2 separate regions of the Homo sapiens genome follow, and region 1 is linked to region 2. Evidence: fine-mapped expression QTL. A gene starts in region 2. The other region holds a variant in brackets. All regions are shown on one strand. Distances are between the middles of the regions. Region 1 overlaps TERF2 (telomeric repeat binding factor 2). Region 2 holds the start of TERF2 (telomeric repeat binding factor 2).

Region 1 (5,000 bases), 23 kb after region 2:
TCTCATTTGATACAGGATCTCATTGGCTTCTCACAGCAATCCTGTGCACTATAGGTATTGCTCCCGGGAACAGATGAGGAAACAGGAGAGTGCGAGATTACAGTAATTTTGTAAATGGGAGGATTTGTGAAGGTTTCAGACATACACCCTCTCTCATATGTCAAGGATATGAAGTCTAATGAATCCCCTAAAGCAGCAGGGGTTGGCAAGCTGTGGCCCTGGGGCCAAATCAGCCTACTGCCTGTTTTTGTAAATAAAGTTTTATTGGAACACAGTCACACCCATCATCAATGTATTATCTAGGGCTGCTTTCTGTTCATTGGTAGTTTGTTGAGTAGCCACAGCAGAGACAGGCTTGCAAAGTGAAAATACTATCTGGCCCTTTACAGAAAAAAAGGGTCAGTGTCCCTGCTCTAAAGAAGTATGTGTGAGGTGCCCTGGCCACTTATGGGAAGAAAAGCTGAGCCTATTCAGCAAGGTTTTAGGTGGCTCAGATTTTATAGAGGAACAAACATTGAGCTGGCCTGGGAAGGATGAGCAGAAGGTCGTCGAGTGTGTTGGGGGCTGGGGGACTCTACGCAGTGGGAGCTCCTTACATACAGGCATGAGAAAGCCTGGTGTGCCCCTCAGAGTGTCATGGAGCCTATGGTAGGAGAATACGGTGCATAGGAAAGAGTGAAGGTAGGAGAGTCTGCATGCTAGATGGGCCAGGCCTGGGATTTCTGTAGTCTAGTGTGTCAGGCAGAGGCTCTCAAGCTGGGCTTCATGACACAATGACCTGTGGAATGCTCAAAAAATACATATTCCCAGGCTCCTGGCTACTGAATTAGAAGAGTCAGGAGAATGCCCTTTAATCTGCTTTTTAAACCATGCCCCAGATAATTCTAATACAACAAATTGGAAGGCCTGATGAGACCCCACTCAGGGAAGGGAGGGAGGGAGGCTGGAGACTGGAGACCGCTGCCAGGGAGCAGGGAGGGGCAGTGGGATCAGGAGGGAAGGCAGGGTTGGCAGTGTCACTTGGACAGGGCCACCATGCCCCAATCTTGTATCTCCCACGGCACCTTGCACATAGCATGTGTTTACTAGGTATTTATTCACCAAGTAAAATAAGGATTCTTTGTTCTTGCATGTTAAGGAGTGACACCCAAAACACCTGTAAAAAGCCAGCAGAGGGTAACATTTTAGGCATTTTGGGCCACATGAGTTGTCTGTCTGTTCCATATTCTTTTCTTGTTTTTTCTTTTTCTTTTTTTCTTGAGACAGGGTCTCGCTCTGTCACCTGGGCTGGAGTACAGTGGCACAATCTCGGCTCACTGCAACCTCTGCCTCCCAGGTTCAAGCGATTCTCCTACCTCAGCCACCATCCCCGCCCCCATCCCAGTAACTGGGACCACAGGTGCGTGCCACCGCACCTGGCTAATTTTTGTATATTTTGTACAGATGGGGTTTGACCATGTAGGCTGGTCTCGAACTCCTGGACTTAATAAGCGATCCACCTGCCTGGGCCTCTCAAACTGCTGGGATTACAGACGTGAGCCACTGCTCCCAACTGTCTTTTTTTGTTTTTTTGTTACAACCCTTAAAAAACGGGCTTGCCATTCTCACCCCAAGCTTCATGGTACACAAGCCGCAGCAGCCAGACTGTAGCTTGCCAACACTTGCTAGACCATTGCTCTTCATGTTCAAACTGCCAGTCAGGAGCACAAGGACCAGGAAGTGGCCTGACTTGGCCAGGACCACTCAGCCCATTACAGTTAGGAGGAGCGGCCAGATCTCAGCCCCATCCACTTGGGAAGTCAGGAGAGGCAGTGAACACATCACCTGAAAGTCAGAGGTCTTGCGAAATCACCACCAAAGCATGTATTTGTACAGGTAATAGTGCTGAGAGTTCAACAGAGGACAGGGAGAAGGTGACCTGTGAAGACTGTGCAGGGAGGGAGGACAGCCACTCAGGGAACATGACGGACCAGCTGGGGACTGAGGTTCCAACTGGTTTTATTCCAGCACTGGGATAAGCACATAGAAAACAAACTATAACCCCATCTGATTTTTATTTATGAATAGTCATTAACACAAGAATATCCTGAGAAGGAAAAACCTCCTGTAAAATGTTTTCACTTTGTCTCAAGTAAATTATTCTCAAGTAACATTTGGGGATAAGATCCAATGTAAAAACAAGAGAAAGTTAGGTCTACCATTTGTCTCAGCCACTTAGTTAAGTAATTTCATAGAAAACTTATGGAACTCAAGGAATTTTTTCAAGCCTATGTACTTATTCATCAACTTGCTTTTATTATTCATTTGCAAAATACCCAAACAGCATTAAAAATAAGTTTTTTCTTCATGGCGGGTGAAGAATACAGAAATTTGTCTCTATTCTTGGTTAACTTTTGCGGGTCATTTGATTTATATAAATTCCTCAAGACTCTGAATTCAGACACTTTCCATGTTTGTAAAAGATGTTATAATTCTGAGGTCAGATCTGTGCTTTGCTCTGTTCCCAGGGCAGTTATTAATCAGGTAAATGCAAAGTTGATTAGAAGAAATGGGCTATA[G/A]TTTTCATTGAATAATTTGAGTTTGGGGTTATTTTCAGCTTTTGTACTTTTTTTAGCCACACCCAAGCATTTAACGTTTCATGTTCACAAGAAGGATTCTTGTTTGCTTTTTACTCTAATCTTTGATGGTATAACTCCCTTGTGGCTCTCTGACAATCACAATGTTAGTTCAGCTAATATGTCTCCAGCTCACATTGGGGTCTGTGTTACTGTGCTGGGTATGCTATGTGTTTGGGATGGACAAAGGAAGATGTGGCCCCCGCCTTCGAGGCGGTCCTGGTTAGGGGCACACTGCAAAGTGGCACTTGGTATGGTGGAAACAGCACTGCAGGCAGGAGGAGAAAGGCTTTCTGTGTGTGTTGTGGTTGGTAGTTAGAGGAGGCTTCACTGAGAACCATGGCCTTGAAAGATGGATGAGATGTCACTTAGCAGGGAAGGGACTCCCAAGCAGAGGGGCTACAGAGAGGCAGGAAAGTACAGAGCTTATGGAAGGAAGAAAGAGCAGAACAGTGTGGCTGTGCTGTTTGCACAGGTGTGGGCATCGTGGGGCGGTTGGTTAGAAACTGACGGGCCAGACTGGATGGTGTGGACTCCCCCATACAGGCATATAGATGCCACTGTTCAGGCAGAGAGAAGCCATTAGGGAATAGAAGAGGCATGTGGTAATTTTAGGGTGATTGTCCTAAAATCATCTTTGGCTTTGGAAGGGGAAGAGCCTAGCGGCAGAGACTCTAGTTAAGAGGCTAGTGGAATACTGATGAAAGGCGCCGTGAGCTTGAACAAGGGGGAATGGAAACGGAAAAATCAGTCCAGATATAGGAAGAAGGCATGTCCAAGGAAGAGAGGGAGGGGTTTGCAGGTTCTAAATCAGAAAAATACTGAGACCTTTAAAAGAGTCAAAACCAAACAAGCAAAACAGGAAAATGAACAGATTCTTTAGAGGGGTGGTGATGTGCTTGATGTACTCAGTGCTGAATTTGAAGGGTGTCCTGCAGCCTGAGGGGTGTTACGTGGAGATGCCTGGCCAGCCAGGAGAAAGGACAGTGGCTTTGGGAGGTGCATGCAGGCGAACCTCGATTGTGGTCACAACGGGACAGGAAGGAGTACAGGGCCAAGAGTGAGCCAAGACCAGAATCTGGGACAATCCAGGGTGAATTTGTTTTATACCTGTGCTCTCCTTGATCTCCCCTCAGAGTACCCAAAGGCAAGTGGAACAGCTCTAATGGGGTTGAAGAAAAGGAGACTTGGGTGGAAGAGGATGAACTGTTTCAAGTTCAGGGTAAGCAGAAGATTCTCCTTGGCCTCTTCTTGATGCTTGCTGAAGTACAGATGCGTGTTACTGTCATGTTAATATTCCAGAAGCTGCTTGTCTCCGAACTAGAAAAAGTTCAGTAAGTTCCCGATCTCATTTTAATTCATGAAGAATCAGTTTTTTTTTTTTTTTCCTTTTTCAGACAGGGTCTTGCTCTGTCACCCAGGCCAGAATGCAGTGGTGTAAACATGGCTCACTGAGCTTCAACCTTCTGGGCTCAAGTGATCCTCCTGCCTCAGCCTCCTGAGTAGCTGGGACTGCAGGTGTGCACCACCACACCTGGCTGTTTTTTTCACTTTTTGTAGAGATGGGGTCTCACTTTGTTGCTCAGGCTGGTCTCAAACTCTTGGGCTCAAGCGATCCTCCCACCTCAGCCTCCCAGAGTGCTGGGATTACAGATGTGAGTCACTGTGCCCTGGTCAAGGAGTCAGTCTGATGTCCTCTCCCATTAAATAATGGAGACTGTCAGAGTAACGCCTTATGTTTAAAGAGAGTTCTTGGTTTTGTTTTAATAACGCCTATGATATTTAATTATAGTTGATGTTCTTCCTAAAATCCTTCAATTAGATGTGGTAGTAGGGGGTCATTCCCTGCATTTCTTGTTTAAAGAAAAAAAAATCTTAACAGTTTCTATATATAAATCCTTTTTTTTTTTTTTTTTTTTTGAGACAGGGTCTCACTCTCATCCAAGGTGGAATGCAGTGGTGTGATCTTGGCTCACTGTAGCCGTGACATCCTGGGCTAAAGCAATTCTCCCACCTTAGCCTCTGGAGTATCGGGGACTACAGGCCCTTGCCACCATGCCCAACTAATCTTTTTTTGTATTTTTAGTAGAGCCAGGGTTTCACCATGTTGGCCAGTATGATCTCGAACTCCTGGGCTCAAGCAATCTGTCTGCCTCATCCTCTCAAAGTGCTGGGACTATACTTGTGAGCCACCATACCATACCCTACCAAAATTGTTTTCTTTTTTTCTTTTTTTTTTTTGAGATGCAGTCTTACTTTGTTGCCCAGGCTGGAGTGCAATGGTGCGATCTCGGCTCACTGCAACCTCCGCCTTCCAGGTTCAAGTGATTCTTATGACTCAGCCTCCTTAGTAGCTGGGATTGCAGGTGTGTCGCACCACGCCCG
Region 2 (5,485 bases):
CATTTTTCAAAGTCCCATCATCCTCTGGTTATCCCAAAATCATTCTCTTCTTTATCTACCACAAATACCCAACTGTCTCTTTAAGGGAACTTCTTTGAAAACCTTAAGTGCTTCCTGCTTTCCTGTAATCCCAGCTACTCGGGAGGCTGAGGCAGGAGAATCAATTGAACCTGGGAGATGGAGGTTGCAGTGAGCCGAGATTGCGCCATTACACTCAAGCCTGGGCGACAAGAGCAAAACTCTGTCTCAAAAAACAAACAAACAAACAAAAAACAGTTTACACTTACTGAGCCCTTACCACAAGCTGAGCCCTTCGCTAAAGGCATTAGAAATAGCAACTCATTGACTTTTCGTATAATTTCCAAGAGGTACCTTCATTATTTGTGCTTGACAGATGTGGAAACAGAGGCACAGAGACAGTTAAGGGATTTGTTCAAGGTTACACAGCTAGCAAGTAGAGGAGTTAGCACTGGCCAGGCGCAGTGGCTCACGCCTATAATCTCAGCACTTTGGGAGGCCACAATGGGTGGATCACTTGAGGCCAGGAGTTCGAGACAGCGTGGCCAACATGGTGAAACCCCGTCTCTACTAAAAATACAAAAATTAGCCAGGCGTGGTGGCACACGCCTGTAATCCCAGCTACTCGGGAGGCTGAGGCAGGAGAATCACTTGAACCCGGGAGGCGGAGGTTGCAGTGAGCCAAGATCGTGCCACTGCACTCCAGCCTGGGCAACAGAACAAGACTCTGTCTCAGAAAAAAAAAAAAAAAGTTAGAATTGAAAGGCAAGTGATTTGGCACCAGGCATAGTAGCTCAACCCTGAAATCCCCAGCACTTTAGGAGACCAGGGTGGGAGGAGTGCTTGAGGCCAGGAGTTCGAGACCAGCCTGGGCAACACGGCAAGACCCCTAATTCTACGAAAAAAAATTTCAAATTACCCAGGCATGGTGGCACACGCTGGTAGTCTTAGCTACTTGGGAGGTTGAGGCAGGAGGATCACTTGAGCCCAGGAGTTCAAGGCTGCAGTGAGCACGATTGTGCCACTGCACTCCAACCTGCATTACAGAGTGAAACTTTCTCAAAAAAACTAAAATAAAGGCAAGTGATTTGGTTCCTGGTTAAGGCAAGCAGGCTGGAATGGAAAAGCAGCCATGGGCCGGGCGCAGTGGCTCACGCCTGTAATCCCAGCACTTTGGGAGACCGAGGCGGGCGGATCACGAGGTCAGGAGATGGAGACCATCCTGGCTAACACAGTGAAACCCCGTCTCTACTAAAAATACAAAAAATTAGCTGGGCATGGTAGTGGGCGCCTGTAGTCCCAGCCACTCGGGAGGCTGAGGCAGGAGAATGGCATGAACCCAGAGGCGGAGCTTGCAGTGAGCCGAGATCGTGCCACTGCACTCCAGCTTGGGCGACAGAACGAGATTCCATCTCAAGAAAAACAAAGAAAAAAAAGAAAAGCAGCTATGATCACCAAAGATCAGTCAGACCTAGAGGCCTCTTCTCTCATCCCGGAACGTGTACCTCATAGAACTTTTGGCTTTCCAGGATACTATACATATTAAGGTCCTGATATTAATTCACAGGTCCAGCATGGGATTCACATCCTCAAGGACATGGCCACCTGCACTTCTGAGTTGTCTTTGAGTGGCCCCAAACTGGATCTTTGCAGGTTCCAGACTAGTGGGGCTGGTAGGACAATCTTTGAAGCTAGACCAGTTACTGGGCCTCTCAGGAAGAGGCACCCACAACCACCATCCTGAACTAAGGTCTGAGCTGGAGGTTCTCCATTTGGTCAAGTGCCAGTTGGTGAATTCCAAGAGTATCAGAGATATCTGAAAGTGACTCAGACCCTCTATGGGACTATGGGTGGTCCTTTTGCTTATTTTTCTAATTGTTCTACAACAAAATGTGTTATTTTTGTGATTACAAAGAGTATATGTCTAGCGGCTGGGTTGCCAGGTGCATTCTATTTATTGGTATCACACTGGTCTTTGCTTTATAATTACAGTATTTGTTAAAATACAAATTTGTTTAAAGACTTTCCTCTGTGTATGCTCTCTTCCACAATTTTCAAAGTGTTTAATAAGGTGCACATATTTGGTTTTCTTTTTTTTCTTTTCTTTTTTTTGAGACGGAGTTTCGCTCTTGTTGCCCAGACTGGAGTGCAATGGCGCGATCTCGGCTCACCGCAACCTCCGCCTCGCGGGTTCAAGCGAGTCTCCTGCCTCAGCCTCCTGAGTAGCTAGGATTACAGGCATGCGCCACCACGTCTGGCTAATTTTGTATTTTTAGTAGAGATGGGGTTTCTCCATGTTGGTCAGGCTGGTCTCGAACTCCCGACCTCAGGTGATCCACCCGCCTCAGCCTCCCAAAGTGCTGGGATTACAGGCGTAGAGCCACCGATCCCGGCCTGTTTTTCAGTCTCTAATACACTGTTCCGCGTCCCTAGCATAGTAGCTGTTTTCTGTAAATTCGGAGCGAAGTTGACTGCAAAACCCGCCGGGTTCACCGGCCTGGGCGGTGTGGACTTCAAGCCCCAGGAGGCATTGCGGCCGGCACATCGGGAACTACGGCGTCTGAGAAGGGGGCCGGGCCCTCCGGTCCTTTCCCTCCCAGAAGCCCGCGGGCGGCTCGGAACGCTGTTTCTATCATGGCCGCGGGAGCCGGGACGGCGGGCCCCGCTTCCGGCCCGGGCGTCGTGCGTGACCCAGCGGCGTCACAGCCGAGGAAGCGGCCCGGCCGGGAGGGCGGGGAGGGCGCGCGGCGATCGGACACGATGGCGGGAGGAGGCGGGAGTAGCGACGGCAGCGGGCGGGCAGCTGGCAGGCGGGCGTCCCGCAGTAGCGGGCGGGCCCGGCGGGGGCGCCACGAGCCGGGGCTGGGGGGCCCGGCGGAGCGCGGCGCGGGGGAGGCACGGCTGGAAGAGGCAGTCAATCGCTGGGTGCTCAAGTTCTACTTCCACGAGGCGCTGCGGGCCTTTCGGGGTAGCCGGTACGGGGACTTCAGACAGATCCGGGACATCATGCAGGGTGAGGGCCGGGCCGGGGGAGGGGGGTTGGAGCGCCGGGGAAGGGGGTCCGGGGGACCGGGAGTCGGGACTGGGGGTCGCCCAGCCAACGATGTCTTCTCTCCCAGCTTTGCTTGTCAGGCCCTTGGGGAAGGAGCACACCGTGTCCCGATTGCTGCGGGTTATGCAGTGTCTGTCGCGGATTGAAGAAGGGGAAAATTTAGGTATGGCTATTTTTGTGTTCTTCTCTGGGCTTACTTGCGTAGGGTTTTGTTTTAAAACTTATATCTAGAACTGAAGGATTCCAGGTTAAAGTGCGATAGTTTCCATCAGAGTGGTCTTTTTCATTCTACGATGGGTCTGTTTTCTGGCTCGACTGGCTCTAGTTTTCTCCGGTTAAGGTTGTCTTGGCTGCTTTTCTGTGTTTTTTTTAAATCTTCTCCCACCTGTTAATTGCTCACCCCAACTTTGCTCCTGTCTAAAGTGAGTTATGTTCATATGGACATCTTTTTTCCCCCATGGTAGAGAGTTTTTCAGAGTGGAAGTACTCTGACATTTTTCCCCTCTGAATTTAACTTGAAAGCTATTTAGCTGTTGTCAGTTTCTTGCCACTCGTATCTGAGGAGGATGGGTATATTCTGAATTTGAGAGGCAAATGCAGGTATTTAAAAATAATTTTTTTGCCTGTCTTGACAGGTGTTAAAAAATGGTCACGTTAAATTCATTGATTTGAATTTGGACCCTTATCGTGTATGTCAACCTGTAGCAAATATGTCAAAAAATTAAATGCAAATCTTACCATATTTGCATGCTCCATTTCCATAAATATATATATATAATTTTTGGACATAACTTTTTTACCCTTAGAAAAGAGCTTAAAAATGAAAACTGTGCTTTGTCCTAGACTGTTCCTTTGATATGGAGGCTGAGCTCACACCACTGGAATCAGCTATCAATGTGCTGGAGATGATTAAAACGGAATTTACACTGACAGAAGCAGTGGTCGAATCCAGTAGAAAACTGGTCAAGGAAGCTGTAAGGCTCTATTTTTATATCTTTTTTCTTTGACCAAAAATCAAGGGTCTTTGAGGATACAGCACTTACTCTTTACTGTGTGGGGCAGAGGAAAACAGCAATGGGGAGAGATTGAGCAAGCAAGAAAGCACACACACAGACGTTATTTCTTCAGGTGTCTCCTTTCCCACCCAGGCTTGGGAAGTAATGGCAGTTGCTCAGTTTTTGTGATTTGGGTGGTCTTCCTTGTGGCTTTGGCATTGAAGCTCTGACATTTTGGAGGTTACTGCACCATTCGGGAGCACTCTACAAGGGCCTTAAGTAACTCTGGCCTAGGGTTTGGTCACCCTTGTTTATAATAAACCAAGGAGATAAACTGGGGCCTTGGAAAATGTGGTACTGACTTTGAGTTCTTTCTGTCTGCAGAAAGAGGGGCTTAGAGAATATCCCTTTTGAACAGATAGATTAGAATCAGAGGTGCTGGGATAATGAGCCAGCTAGCAAAATAGTAATGGTAGAAGAATGATAGAAATCCGGCACAGGCAGTGTTCTTGAATTCAAGAAAAAAGCTAATGGAGTGTCTAGGAATTTGGGATTGTCACTGTGTTGTGGCTCAGGTAGCTTCAAACAGTAGAAATTATTTTAATTTAAAACATAGAAGTGGCTGTGGGAACCAGTTAGAAAAAGATTTTTCTTCCCCCAAAACCAAGGCTGGGGGGTGTGGAAGCAGATGCAGAGGTGAAGATGGAAAACATCAGCTAAGCATTGCCCTGGTGGTAGAAAATAGGGAAATGGTTAAGAAAAGAGCACCCCTAAAAGGATGGGATCCCAAAGATGGGGGTGGGGTAGAAAGAAAAACCTTGCTTCACAAGGAAAACCTGTCTCTTGGCTGTGTACATTGTACTTGGGTACCCTATTAAAAAACAACTAGTGTGCATGAGGTGCACATATTTTATTTATTTAATTAAGGACCTTGGGCAGATACTACTTTTGGTCTGGTAAAGAAATGCTTAAATATTAGTCATTTCCAAGGAAGAATAATTTCAAGAGTACATTTTTAGTATAGGAAAATCAGGTTTAGGTTGAGGGGAGGCATATGCCAGAATAGACATTATCAAGGGAGGAGAAATTCATGCCTACTTTCAGAACTGTTAAGGATCTTTTGAATGGGTACCAGTTTAGAATAATTCATTTAACTTCTATTAAGTACACATTGAGTATCCCTTATCCAAAATACTTGGGAACAGAAGCATTTTGGATTTCAGATTTTGGAATATTTGCATTAAATTTAGTTTGAGCATCCCAAATCCAAAAATCTGAAATCCCAAATGCCCTCAAATCTGAAACTTTTTGAGTGCCAACATGGCACTCAAAGGAAATGCTCATTGGAGCATTTCAGATTTCGGATTTTCAGATTTAGGATGCTCAACCTGTAGCAACTCCTTTAGAACACAAGGGCTAT

Evidence for each region.
Region 1: its variant is fine-mapped to the expression of TERF2 in whole blood (INTERVAL, PIP 0.94).

The regions. Positions count from the first base shown.
Region 1 is chr16:69,360,241-69,365,240 of GRCh38, reverse strand. TERF2 (telomeric repeat binding factor 2) reads left to right here. Exons shown (of 10, transcript NM_005652.5): 8 at 3,752-3,837. Among named protein-coding and RNA genes, the nearest start is that of TMED6, 11 kb to the right of the region's middle. The variant G/A (reference allele first, on the strand shown) is at 2,559.
Region 2 is chr16:69,383,139-69,388,623 of GRCh38, reverse strand. TERF2 (telomeric repeat binding factor 2) reads left to right here and starts at 2,617. Exons shown (of 10, transcript NM_005652.5): 1 at 2,617-3,031; 2 at 3,138-3,233; 3 at 3,914-4,044. The coding sequence starts at 2,653. RefSeq lists a silencer at 2,622-3,001.